Homo sapiens: one gene and its partners. The protein of the gene in region 1 purifies or fractionates together with the protein of each later gene. This does not show direct contact. Each region holds a gene or a part of one and is shown on either strand. Other genes may lie near its edges.

Evidence for each region. The genes of interacting proteins can lie anywhere in the genome.
Region 2: the proteins of AGK (region 1) and DHCR24 purify together in Homo sapiens (affinity purification with mass spectrometry, with the first as the bait; one large-scale study listed by BioGRID). This does not show direct contact.
Region 3: the proteins of AGK (region 1) and SMPDL3B purify together in Homo sapiens (affinity purification with mass spectrometry, with the first as the bait; one large-scale study listed by BioGRID). This does not show direct contact.
Region 4: the proteins of AGK (region 1) and ATP2C1 purify together in Homo sapiens (affinity purification with mass spectrometry; one large-scale study listed by BioGRID and IntAct). This does not show direct contact.

What each region holds. Positions count from the first base shown.
Region 1 is NC_000007.14:141,557,910-141,561,409, reverse strand, and holds part of AGK (acylglycerol kinase, mitochondrial isoform 1 precursor), read right to left. Parts: intron 1-3,500. UniProt on the Homo sapiens protein: Lipid kinase that can phosphorylate both monoacylglycerol and diacylglycerol to form lysophosphatidic acid (LPA) and phosphatidic acid (PA), respectively. Does not phosphorylate sphingosine. Phosphorylates ceramide.
Region 2 is NC_000001.11:54,863,196-54,866,695, forward strand, and holds part of DHCR24 (delta(24)-sterol reductase precursor), read right to left. Parts: intron 2,252-3,500; coding exon 2,108-2,251; intron 1-2,107. UniProt on the Homo sapiens protein: Catalyzes the reduction of the delta-24 double bond of sterol intermediates during cholesterol biosynthesis.
Region 3 is NC_000001.11:27,945,000-27,948,499, forward strand, and holds part of SMPDL3B (acid sphingomyelinase-like phosphodiesterase 3b isoform 1 precursor), read left to right. Parts: intron 1-232; coding exon 233-446; intron 447-3,500. UniProt on the Homo sapiens protein: Lipid-modulating phosphodiesterase. Active on the surface of macrophages and dendritic cells and strongly influences macrophage lipid composition and membrane fluidity. Acts as a negative regulator of Toll-like receptor signaling.
Region 4 is NC_000003.12:130,998,584-131,002,083, forward strand, and holds part of ATP2C1 (calcium-transporting ATPase type 2C member 1), read left to right. Parts: intron 1-934; coding exon 935-1,076; intron 1,077-2,636; coding exon 2,637-2,767; 3' UTR 2,768-3,500. UniProt on the Homo sapiens protein: ATP-driven pump that supplies the Golgi apparatus with Ca(2+) and Mn(2+) ions, both essential cofactors for processing and trafficking of newly synthesized proteins in the secretory pathway.

The DNA.
Region 1 (3,500 bases):
TGAAAAGGGAACACTTACGCTGCTGGTGGGAATGTAAATTAATACAACCACTATGGAAAACAGTATGGAGATTCCTTAAATAACTAAAAGCGGAACTACCATTAAATCCAGCAATCCCACTACTGGGTATCTACCCAAAGGAAAATAAGTCATTATATGAAAAAGACACTTGCATATGCATGTTTATAGCAGCAAAATTTGCAATTGCAGAAATATGGAACCAACCTAAATGCCCATCAACCAACAAGTGGCTAAAGAAAATGTGGTATATATACACCATGGAATACTACTCAGCCATAAAATAAACTGAAATAATGGGCCGGGCGCGGTGGCTCACGCCTGTAATCCCAGCATGTTGGGAGGCCGAGGCGGGCGGATCACGAGGTCAGGAGATCGAGACCATCCTGGCTAACACGATGAAACCCCGTCTCTACTAAAAATACAAAAAATTAGCTGGGTGCGGTGGCAGGCACCTGTAGTCCCAGCTACTTGGGAGGCTGAGGCAGAATGGCATGAAGCCGGGAGGCGGAGCTTGCAGTGAGCCGAGATCGTGCCACTGCACTCCAGCCTGGGCGACAGAGCGAGACTCCGGCTCAAAAAAAAAAAAAAAAAAAGAAAGAATGGCACTTGCAGCAACCTGGATGGAGTTGGAGACCATTACTCTAAGCGAAGTAACTCAGGAATGGAAAGCCAAATATCATATATTCTCATTTATAAGTGAGAGCTAAGCTATGAGGGCACAAAGGCATGAGAATGATATAAGGGACTTTGGGGACTCAGGGGGAAAGGTGGGAGTGGGGTGAGGAATAAAAGACTACACACTGGGTACAGTGTACGCTGCTCGGGTAACGGGTGCACCAATATCTCAGAAATCACCACTAAAGAACTTATCTATGTAACCACAAACCACCACCTGTTCCCCAAAAACTATTAAAATAAAACAAAATTTGTAAAAACCATAATAATAAAATGACCTGATGGGGGAAAAAAAAAAGAAGAAGAAGAAAGAAAGGACAAGGCAGCTTCCACTCAAGAAGACTACAGGGTAAGATCTTCTCAGGGTAAAAACAAGTTTGGTATAAAGAATGTGAGCACTGTTCTGTGAAAAGGTTGGGGATATATAGGCAAAAAAAAAAACGGAGGGAGGGCAACAAAAGGAAAAGTATCACAGCATAATAAAGGTCATTTATGATGAGCCCACAGCTAACATCATACCCAATTTTGAAATACTGGAAGTTTTTCTTCTAAGATCAGGAATAAGACAAAGATGTCCACTCATCACTTCTACTCAACATAGCACAGGAAGTTCTAGCCAGAGCAATGAGGCAAGAAAAAGAAATAAAGGCATCCAAACTGGAAAGGAAGAAGTAAAATTATCTCTATTCACAGATGACATATCTTATATGTAGAAACCCTAAAGATTCTACACCAAAAAAAAAAGCTGTTAGAACTAATAAATTCAGCAAAGTTGTAGGATACACAACACACAAAAATCAGTTATATTTCTATATCCTAAGAATGAACAATCTGAAAAGGAAATTAAGAACACAATCCCATTAACAATTGCATCAAAAGAATAAAATACTTAGGAATAAACTTAAGCAAGTAGGTAAAAGACTTATACGCTAAAAACAAAACACTGCTGAAAGAAATTAAAGAGTACAATAAAAAGACATCCCGTGTTCATAAATTAGAAGACTTAATATTGTTCAAATGTCTATTCTACAAAACAATGTACAGATTCAATGCAATCCCAATGGCATTTTTTGCAAAAATAGAAAAAACATCCCAAAATTCATATGGAATCTCAAGAAATCCCCAAACATCCAAAACAATCTTGAAAAAGAACAAGGATGGAAGTCTTATATGTACTAAATTTAAAATATATTACAAAGCAATAGTAATCAAAACAGTGTGGTATTGGCATAAATACAGATATATAGACTAATGAACAACAGAAAGCCCAGAAATAAATCCTCATCTATATGGTCAAATGATCTTCAATAGGGATGCCAAGACCACGCAATGGGGAAATGACAGTCTCTTCAACAAATGGTAATGGAAAAACTAGATATCCATATGGAAAATAATGAAGCTGAACCCCTATCTTATACCATATAAAAAAAATTAACTCAAAATCTGTTAAAGACCTAAATGTAAGACCCAATATAAAACTCCTAGAAGAAAACATAGGGAAAAGCTTCATGACACTGGATTTAGCAATGATTTCTTGAATATAACACCAAAAGCAGAGGCAAACAAAAGCAAAAGTAGACAAATGGGCCTTAACGAAACTAAAAACAATATATATCAAAGGACATGATCAATAGTGTAAAAAGGCCAGCTACAGAATAGGAGACAATATATTGAAAATTCTATATCTCACAAGGGATTAATATCTGGAATCCATAAAGAACTCCTACAGGCCAACAACAACAAAACTCAATTAAAAATGGAAAAAGGACTTGAACAGACATTTCTCCAAAGATTTTTAAATGGCCAACATGCATGTGAAAAGATGCTTGACTTCCTTAATCATTAGAAAAATGCAAACCAAAACCACAATGACATATCACCTCACACTCATAAGGATAGCCCATATCAAAGAAACAGAAAATAACAAGTGTTGATGAGGGCGTGGAGAAACTGAAAACCTTGTACACCGTTTGTGGGATTGTAAAATGATGAGCCACAATGGAAAACAGTATGAAAGCTCTTCAAAAAATTAAAAATAGACTACCATATGATCTAGCAATCCCCACTTCTGGGCATATATCCAAAATAATTAAAAACAGGATCTCCAAGAGGTATCTGTACACTCAAGTTAATTATAGCATGTTTCACAATAGTCAAGAGGTAAAAGCAACCAAAATGTCCATTGACAGATGTAAAGACCATACCTCTTTAAACGTAAAGAATATATCTTTACATTTAGAGATAATATAGGCCAGGCGCAGTGGCTCACACCTGTAATCCCAGCACTTTCAGAGGCCAAGGCGGGCAGATCACCTGAGGTCAGGAGTTCGAGACCAGCGGGCCAACATGGTTAAAAAAAAAAAAAACCATCTCTACTAAAAATGGAAAAATTAGCCAGGCATGGTGCACGCGCCTGTAGTCCCAGCTGCTTGGGAGGCTGAGGCAAGAGAATCACTTGAACCTCGGAGGCAGAGGTTGCAGTGAGCCAAGATCACACCACTACACTCTAGCCTAGGTGACAGAGCAGGACTCCGTCTCAAAAAAAAAAGAAAAGGTAAAGATAATATAAACATTATAGACATTATAAGTGAAATAAGCCAACCACAAAAATACAAATACTATATGACTCACTGACACAAAGTATAAAGTGGTCAAATTCCTAGAAACAGAAAGTAGAATAGTGGTTGTCAAGGACAGCTGGGTTGGGGCGGGAATGGGCAGTTGTTCAATGGGTACAGAGTTTCAGTTTTGCAAGATGAAAAAGTTCTAGAGATCTGTTGAACAACAATGTGAATATACTTAAC
Region 2 (3,500 bases), on another chromosome or scaffold:
ATTTGACACTTCTCCTCTGCTGCTGCCCAGACAACAGTATCTTCTTTCTTCTACTCTTCCACTCTTGTCCACTCCCGTCCCCATCCACTCTATCCAGCTGTCACAGTTATTCTTTTAAAACAAAAATCAGGCCATGCCACTTTCCTGTTCAAAGCCCTCATTGGCTTCCTATTATACTTAGAATAAAATATAAAGTCCTTCCTAACCTACAAGGAGCCATATGATCTAGCCTCTGGTGCCTGTTTGACCTCATTCCTCACCATAGCTCAGCGTGGGCATGCTGGCTCCGAAGGCTTCTTGCTGTTTTTCAAACACATGCAGCCTTGCTGGGACACCTGGATAGCTATAAGCAAAAGAATGGAGCCTGGACTCCTACCCCACTCAACAACCTAAAGATTAGAGCTGCAACTATAAAGGTCTTTGAAGAAAACAAAGGGGCTTGGACTTGACAATAAATTCTTATATATGGCACTAAAAGCACAAACAAAAGGGAAAATAGATAAATTGGAATTCATCTAAATTAAAAACTTCTGTGCATCAAAGGACGTTACCAAGACAATGAAAAGAAACCTACAGAATTGGAGAAAATGTTTGCAGATCATATATCTGATGAGGGTCTAGTATCCAGAATACACAAAGAACTCTTACATCTCAACAACAAAGACAAATGACCAAATTTTAAAAGGTGGCAAAGGATTCAAATAGACTTTTCACCAAAGAAGATATACAAAACGGTTAACATGCATATAAAAAGATGCTCAGCATCATTAATTTCAAGGAAAATGCAAGTCAATACCATAAACCCACCAGAATGGCTATAATAATAATACTAATAATTTAAAAACCAGAAAATAACAAGTGTTGGTGAGAATGTTGAAAAAATAGAGCGCTCATACATTGCTGGTGGGAATGAAAAATGGCACAGCCTCAGTGGAAAAGAGTTTGGTTGTTGCTCAGAAAGTTAGACACAGAATTAGCATATGACCCAGCAATTCCACTCCTAGTTCTATATCCCAAAGAACTGAAAACAAGTATTCAAACAAATACATGCACATGAAGGTTTGTAGCAGCACTGTTCACAGTAGCCAAAAGGTTGAAACAACCCACATGTCCATCAACAGATGAGTGACAAAACAAAATGTGGTCTCTCATATAATGAACTACTATCCCGCCATAAAAAGAAATGAAATATTGATACATGAAAACATTATGCTATGTAAAAGAAGCCAGTCACAAAAGGCACATACTGAATGATTCCATATATGTGAAATATCCAGAATAAGTAAATCTGCAGAGACAGAAGATGAATTGGTGGTTGCCACAGGCTGGGGAAAGGGGAGAGAATAGGGAGTGGCTGCTTAATGGGTATAGGGTTTCCTTTTCAGAGATGAAAATGTTTGGAACTACACAGAGGTAGTGGTTGCACAACACTGTGAATGTACTAAACTACCCTGAACTGTCCATTTTATAATGTTTAATTTCCTGTTAGCCCAGCTCAAGCCCTGGGCTCTGGCTGTCCCTCTGCCTGTGAACAGAGTTCCAGAGTCCTCCCCAGAGTTGTTCCTGGTCTGCCTTCCCTATGTTCAGGTCCCTGCTCACAAAGTCATCTCCTGAGGGGTTCTTCCTGACCTTCCCCCACTTAAAGTGTCACTGCTCCTCATCCACCCACCCATCTACACATGCAACAGCAAATTCTCACTCACCTTTCACAGCCAGGCTTGGCTGTTACCTCGAGCCCTAGGCAGAACTAGCCACTTCCTACTAATGTTCCTGCGGCCCTTTACAGTGCAGGGATCTGTCTGCTCACCGTGGCTAGAGGCTAACCCTTCCTCAAGGGCGGAACAGGTCTGTGTTCCCCAAAGTACCGGCCCAGGGGCTTACTCCCCAGCACCAAGCAGATGCTTGCTAAGAGCCTGCTGCTTGAACTGAAGGTAGTTGGTTCCTTCAGAAGGAAACGACTGTGTTGCTGCTTAAGAAGGCATTGCAGTTCCTTAGGACAAAGCCACTCTTTACCCTGAAGGGAGAGAGTATGGCTACAGTGTTAACTGTCCGGGCTCCCTGCCCAGCTGGCCTGGAGGAGCCAGGGCTACAGAAACCTAAGCCTCACCTGGAGCTCCCAGAAGATGCTGCGCGTGTGGCGGTGGTAGTAGTGTCTCAAGGGAATGTACTCCAGGCCCTCTCGGTTTGTCTTCAGATAGTTCTCCACATGCTTAAAGAACCACGGCTTGTAGTAATTGCCAATGCTATTCAGCTGAAATGACAGAGGGCATTGTGATCAGCCTGCAGACAAGCGCCCAGCACCATCGGGGTGTAACAGCGACACCCGGCTTCTGTTCAGCACTCCTGGCCTTTTCAAAGCTCTTTCATGTCTATTACTGCCTTTGAGACTCTTGAAAGCTGGTGAGGTTAGGCACAGCGGGTATCCTCTAGCAGAGAGAGCAGGAGCTCAAAGAGGTTAAGTGGTGTGTGCCCAGGGCCAAACAGTGAGTCCCCGACAGTCTAGAGAACTCAGCGACCCCGCCTAGCCTGGTGCAAGTGTTTAACAGAGTTAAACATTTAACTGCCCTGATGCAGTGCCCCATGCAGGGGAATTCCCTCCCTCCCTCCCTTCCCACCTTCCCCAAGGCCAGGGAAGCACGAACTCTGGGAATGGGTCAGCCCCTCAGTGCAACCCAGGGCTCATGGCACCAACTGGTCATGGCACTTTCCCTGCTGTCCCTGGACCAAGCTCCACAGTCCTCCGGGTACAGCACTCCCCAGGCAGCCACCATCGTCTGGAGGATGCTCACATGAATAAGGCTCATACCTCCCTGGCCCTGGGGGCTCCCACACCCAAATCTTCTATTGAGCTGATGTCTCCTGCAGCCCTAAATGGTCATGACTCAATGTGCTGTGTGCCTTGGGATGGCTGAGCTTCTCCTGGCCTCAGCTTCCTCATCCATAAATGAATTCTGGCAGATGCTCTCGGGGAGAGGCAGGGGGGATCCTGGAAAAGCACAAGCTTTAGGGTGGGCAGCTGGGGACACACCCAGGCAGGTCATCTCTGAGCCTGTTTCTTCACATGTAACATGACAATAAAAATACATACTTTGTGGGAGTTATTTGTCTATTAGAAATTACATACATATGCCCACTGTTTTTAAAAAATAGGACCATCTTTTTTTTTTTTTTGAGACAGAGTCTCGCTCTGTCGCCCAGGCTGGAGTTCAGTGGCACGATCTTGGCTCACTGCAAGCTCCACCTCCCTGGTTCACGCCATTCTCCTGCCTCAGCCTCCTGAAAAATGGGACCATCTTACACGTACTGTTTGCCAATTTGCTTTTTCCATTTACAACACACTTAGCAGAGCCTAGGCAGGTTACTTAGCATTTCTGGAAGACTAAAAGAGATGATGTAGAAAGTGCCAAGCACGGTGCCTGGTCCACAGGTGGCTGAAGTATCAGTCCCCACCCATTCCCTTGTTGACCTGCTCTACCCTACAGCCAGGCAACCCTTTGCCG
Region 3 (3,500 bases), on another chromosome or scaffold:
CCTTGCCAAAGGTCAGCGCTCAGGGATGGAGCTGAGCCTGTTCTGTGCTCTGCTCAATGTGTCCCTGGGCAGAGCCAGGCCTGTGGGCCTTTTCTCTGAACCCGGGGTGCTCAGAGAAGACTTCCATTTGCCTGTGTAACGCCCCTGCCCCAGCCCAGGGCTCCCCTGGACTTCCTTGCTTCCAGGCTGAGAGAGAGACCAGCTTTGAAGGAGGATGTTTTTTCCCCTGCAGGGAAGTTCTGGCACATCGCTGACCTGCACCTTGACCCTGACTACAAGGTATCCAAAGACCCCTTCCAGGTGTGCCCATCAGCTGGATCCCAGCCAGTGCCCGACGCAGGCCCCTGGGGTGACTACCTCTGTGATTCTCCCTGGGCCCTCATCAACTCCTCCATCTATGCCATGAAGGAGATTGAGCCAGAGCCAGACTTCATTCTCTGGACTGGGTGAGTACAGTTGAGGTGGCAGCTACCCTTTGCCAGGCATCTGCTATGTGCTACATACCAGTCTGGCCCTTTGCCCACATTATCTCCCTTAATCCTCACATCAGTCTCACGTGAGGCTGAGGAACCTAAAGCTCAAAGGAATTTTGTAACTTGCCCGGGGATTCCTGAGTCCAACTGATTCCACAGTCTGTGTCCTCGACCTCCATGTCTCCTGGCTGTGGCAGAACGCAGCTCTCAATCAGGCTTTTGGACGTGGTCCTGGCATGCCTGGGCACCCGGAGAGTGTCCAGGTTTTAAGCTATGGGTGGACACTGGAGCCATTTCCCCTGGGGCTTAGGGACTCTAAGTCTGAGAGGTCCAAGTGCAGGGAGGGAAGAAGTTATGAGGGCTGAAGGTGGCCCAGCCTGGGGTCCTAGTGTCCTGGCCAGCTGCTGGCCACCCCTGGGCTGCCCAGTGGTCCTGGATTTTCTCACCAGTCAGAGCTCTGCTCTACAGAGTGACAGCTTGAGGGCCGATCCCACTCAGCCGCAGAGACCCAGTTTCTGCTTCCTGTCCAAGGTTGCTGCTCTAATTCCTTCAACTTTCCTGGGAACTTGCCTCCTTATCATTCAAGATTCCCCCATTCCGGCTGGGTATAGTGGCTCATGCTTGTAATTCCAGCACTTTGGGAGGCCGAGGCAGTGGATCACCTGAGGTCAGGAGTTTGAGACCATCCTGGCCAACATGGTGAAACCCCGTCTCTACTAAAAATACAAAAATTAGCCTGGCGTGGTAGTGCACGCCTGTGGTTCCAGCTACTCGGGAGGCTGAGGCAGGAGAATCGCTTGCATTTGGGAGGTAGAGGTTGCAGTGAGCCAAGATCACACCACTACACTCCCAGCCTGAGTGACACAGCAAGACTCTGTCTCAAAAAAAAAAAAGAAAGAAAAAGAAAAAAAGATACCCCCATCTCCTCGCTTGCTCCCTCACTTGGCAGGGCAACAAGTCGTGCTCAGTTGTGGGGTAGATGCTAGGGATCTGAGATGATGGACACCCACACTTGGCTCCAAGGAGCTCACGTTCTTGTGGGCAATGCAGACAAACCCATTGACCCTACCCTTACATCCAAGCAAGGAGAGAGAGTCACCTGGGGGGATGTGGGAACTTCACAGGGCACATGATCCCATCTGGCAGGATTAGGGGAAGGACATCCTGCAGGAGGTGGTGGAGCAGGGGAGCTCTCGAGGAAGGCTGGAAGGAATTCTGACTTTGCGCTCCCTCTACCAGCCTCAGTGGACACTTCTATAAGGCAGGGTGAAACCCATGATGCCCCTAGCTGTGATGTGGTTTGTGGGTGTGACCAGGAAGGACCCTCAGATGAACCTGCCAGGCTGGACACATAAGAAGACATGTGACATTGTCTCAGGAGGGGCCTGGACAGCTCTGGCTTCCTTGGGCTCAGGAATCAATCTAAGAAGAGAGTGAGATTTGGTCCATGACCTTGGGCCTGCTCCCTTGAGGGGAGCTTCTGATTTCTCCGAGAAGGGAGAGCATGTGTAGCATTCAGACAGATGGGATCCCTCAGGAAATTCATGATCCTTTAACAGATGCACATTTTTTTTTTTTTTTGAGATGGAGTTTCGCTCTTTTTGCCCAGGCTGGAGTGCAATGGCGTGATCTTGGCTCACCACAATCTCCGCCTCCTGGGTTCAAGCGATTCTCCTGCCTCAGCCTCCCGAGTAGCTGGGATTACAGGCATGCGCCACCACGCCCGGCTAATTTTGTATTTTTATTAGAGACAAGGTTTCTCCATGTTGGTGAGAGTGGTCTCAAACTCCCGACCTCAGGTGATCTGCCCGCCTCAGCCTCCCAAAGTGCTGGGATTGCAGGCGTGAGCCACTGCACCCGGCCACAGTTGCACCTTTTTTTCCTGGGAAATCTCTGAGACCTTGAAGAGGTACACAGCATCAGATGAGAAGATCTCTAGGACCCTTTACAATTCTTCAATTATAATAAAATTTGACTTCTAAGAGAGCTGCAGTCCCTTTGAGGATGGCCATTAGAAATTAGGTATGTTTTACTACTCAGGAGGCTGAGGCAGGAGAATCGCTTGAACCTGGGAGACGGAGGTTGCAGTGAGCCGAAATTGCGCCACTGCACTCCAGCCTGGGTGACAGAGCGAGACTCCATCTCAAAAAAAAAAAAAAAAAGAAATTAGGTGTTTTTTTGTTTTTTTTTTTTAAGATGGAGTCTCGCTCTGTCGCCCAGGCTGGAGTGCAGTGGTGCGATCTCGGCTCACTGGTGCCCCCTACCACGCCTGGCTAATTTTTGTATTTTTAGTAGAGACAGGGTTTCACCATATTGGCCTGGCTGGTCTCGAACTCCTGACCTTATGATCCGCCTGCCTCGGCCTCCCCAAGTGCTGGGATTACAGGCGTGAGTCACCGCCCCCGGCCTAGGTGTGTTTTTTATCAGACAGAATTAGATTCTCTAACCTAGAAATTAAAAATATGAAATTTTGTCCCTGTGTCTTTGGGTTTCCGGCCTGTCCCCAGGGAGTTTTCAGGGCAAAACAGCCCCTCTTGCTGCCCTAATGTGGGTATCAGAGACACTATAGGATGCAGTGGCTGTGAGCATAGACTCTGGGGCCAGGCTGACTGGGCTCAAATCTTGGCCCCACCACTTTCTAGTGGTGTACACTTAGGTACAATTTTTCCCCCGTGTCTCTGGTGCTTGATTTAGGATAGGCAAAATTCTTAACTTTTCTGTGTCTTGGTTTCTTTATCTGTCAAACGGGCCTAAACTAATAATAGAATTTACATTGCAGTGTTATAATGGGGAAAAAATTAGTGGCTGTGGCAACAACACACAGAAAGTGCCTGGCAGAAAGTCAGCCGGTGTGAGCTTCTAGCAGCAGTATTAATACTATTATGCTAATTAGTTTCCCTGGGGGAATACCTGGGCAGCAGAGGCCCCAGGATTTTGACTGTCCGGACGTCTCCCCATCCCTACACTCCACCTGCCACCATTCTCCTCCCCTTGCCAAGCATTTCTAAGGTGGACCCAAGAATTTTG
Region 4 (3,500 bases), on another chromosome or scaffold:
TTATGTCTGACTAGAACATAAAAGTATTAATAATTCACAGGTGTTGTCATCTGCGTTTAGCTGGCTATAGCTATAAGATAGATCGTGGTTAACATTATTTGAGCATAGAACAAACCTCATAGTTTCTGTTGAGATTTTATTAGTCTCATTTTAAAAGACAGTATTGCTAGGAGTATAAGAGCAGTTATGTGCCTATTTTTTTTCCCATCACTCCTGTCACTGTGTCAAAGCTTAGGACATTCTAATTTTGCTTTTCTTCCCTTGTTGTATCTTAAGGTGTGACTGCTGCTTCTTGGTCTAAGTGTTTTGATAGAAAATAATGGGCTAGAGCTTTATGGTACTTTTTTAGAGCATATTGTCCTTAAAAACTAGTTTCATTTGAGGCATGACTATTCATTTCAGCTTTAAAGCACTTTATGAATCCTTAACTATATTACCATTTGCCATGCTGGAACTTCTGAGTACAGCGAATTCTCACTAATTGACCAATTTTTGAAGAAGCTGTAATATTTATTTTTTTATGAAAAGTGGTTTTACTTTTTCAGTACACACACAATTAGGTCCATTCTCCAAGAAAGGATTTTAGATTATCTACCTTAGTGAATGTATAGAAATGATTTAGCAAAATACAAATAAAGTTTCTTGATGTTTGGGATGTTAAAAGGTTTCTTTTCTTTCTATGGTCTAAATTATATAGTGTCACTTTTTAAGCAAGCCTTTTCTTGATAAATAAAATAAAAGCTACTTTAATATTTACTTTTATTCCATCTGAATTATTCCAAAACAGTAGTAAAATTTAAGATATTTCATAGAATTGACATTGCACAATTCAGTGATAAAGTGACACTGCTTGTTAAAAATTAGAAGTGAATATAATAAAGAAGTTATTTCTGTGACCAAGGAGTAATAAATGAACTCTCTGCTCTGCCAACAGACCAAGTCTGTGTTTGAGATTGGACTCTGCAGTAATAGAATGTTTTGCTATGCAGTTCTTGGATCCATCATGGGACAATTACTAGTTATTTACTTTCCTCCGCTTCAGAAGGTTTTTCAGACTGAGAGCCTAAGCATACTGGGTAAAGAAAACGTTATCTTTATCATTTATGTATTTTAGATAAATCATATTTTCTAATGTGTTTGTTTTAATTTTAAAATTCTTTTAAAATAGCAAAATAAGTAACTCACTTGATTTGAAAAAGGAGTCTATTTTTTCACTTGGGGAAGCTCAGGGGAATTACTCTCCTAACTCCAGGGTTTTGGTTTTTGCTCTTTTATAGGTTATCAATTGTTATAAAAATCATAATACGTGATTCTCAAATATAGCAAATCAAAACCTGCTCTAGAGTATAGTTTATAACTTTTTATGTACTATGCCATCTTGTATGAAGAGAAAACTAGACTTAATCTCCCTGAAAACCAAGTTGCTCTCTTCTTTAAAGTTAGAATTTTCAGTAAACTAATAATTTCATTATTCTTTCTTGTTTGTACATTCTAATTTCACAAAATGTCAGTCTGACCAAATAGCAGAATGTTTTATAAAGACTATTTGGAAATTACACATTTTTCTTACATTACCATTTATTAAATGTATAATACAGTGCATTTAAAAATTAGTTTTCCTGTGTAGGTGTGAGGAATGATATATTTGACAGTAATGCTATCCTTTATTGAGTTCTCAATTTGGGTATTTATGAAAAGGAGTTATACAGTTTCACTGTATTTTTTCTTGTAAGTTAAAATTTACCTTAAAATTGAACTAGTTGAATTTCAGTATTTTAATTCCATATTCACATTTCTTCCTCTTTTTAAAAAAATGGCATTTTAAGGAAACATCTGCAATTTTCCAAGCAGTAAATAAGAATTGAGATAGTGTGGATAGTATTGTAAAGACAAGTCTTCTATGCTTTGAAATAGAACATATTAATGTCAAATTTTTAATCTTCAGATAGGCATTGTCATTCAAATTGTCTACTACTGTTGATACAGTACTTTTTTAAAGGGCTGTGTGATCTATGAAATAAACTCCTTTTGTTGGTGATACTGTTAAAGGCTAGCCACATAAGGTTTCAGGGAAAGTGGTCAGAGGACTTGGGTTCTAATTCTGGCTGCTGCCTTTCCTAGTTATGTGACTTTGGATAAGTCACTTAATATCTTTTTTTCTTTTCTTATTTTTAACTGAGGGTGATTGTGCCTGCCTTATGGAATAGTTGTGAAACAATGTGTTTGAAAGCTGTGGTGGCCAGGCGCCATGCCTCACGCCAGTAATCCCAATACTTCGGGAGGCTGAGGCAGGCAGATCACTTGAGGTCAGGAGTTCAAGACCAGCCTGTCCAAAATGGTGAAACCCCCTCTCTACTAAAAATACGAACATTAGCCAGGTATGATGGCACATGCCTGTAATCCCAGCCACTTGGGAGGCTGAGGCAGGCAAATGGCTTGAACCCAGGAGGCGGAGGTTGCAGTGAGCTGAGATCATGCCACTGCATTCCAGCCTGGGTGACAGAGCAAGACTTCATCTCAGAAAAAAAAAAAAAAAAAAAAAAAGTTGTGTTAAAATGCTAGAAAAATGTAAGCTATTAAGCTTTGCAACTGTAAGTTTCAAAGAAATGTAAAACCCAACTTATTTTCTCTTGCAGATCTGTTGTTTCTTTTGGGTCTCACCTCATCAGTGTGCATAGTGGCAGAAATTATAAAGAAGGTTGAAAGGAGCAGGGAAAAGATCCAGAAGCATGTTAGTTCGACATCATCATCTTTTCTTGAAGTATGATGCATATTGCATTATTTTATTTGCAAACTAGGAATTGCAGTCTGAGGATCATTTAGAAGGGCAAGTTCAAGAGGATATGAAGATTTGAGAACTTTTTAACTATTCATTGACTAAAAATGAACATTAATGTTAAAGACTTAAGACTTTAACCTGCTGGCAGTCCCAAATGAAATTATGCAACTTTGATATCATATTCCTTGATTTAAATTGGCTTTTGTGATTGAGTGAAACTTTATAAAGCATATGGTCAGTTATTTAATTAAAAAGGCAAAACCTGAACCACCTTCTGCACTTAAAGAAGTCTAACAGTACAAATACACTATCTATCTTAGATAGATATATTTTTTTTTATTTTTAAATATTGTACTATTTATGGTGGTGGGGCTTTCTTACTAATACACAAATAAATTTAATCATTTCAAAGGCATTCTATTTGGTTTAGAAGTTGATTCCCAGGAGTGCCATATTTCAGCTACTGTATTTCCTTTTTCTTGTAATGTAAGCAGCTCAGATACCATGTGCTATCATTTTTGTATCAAGTTTTTTGCACAGGATGTGACCACTGTCAGATCACTGTTCTTTTCTTTCTTTTTGTGATTGAAAAGCCTATACTACAATTTGAAGTAAATTTTTGTTTTTCTTAGTAAGTGTAAATGGTTGCTTTATTTTTATTTTAAAAAGGTATGTCTTTGGTTTGGCAGAATTCATGCAGGGCTATCAAGTGGTGTTCTAG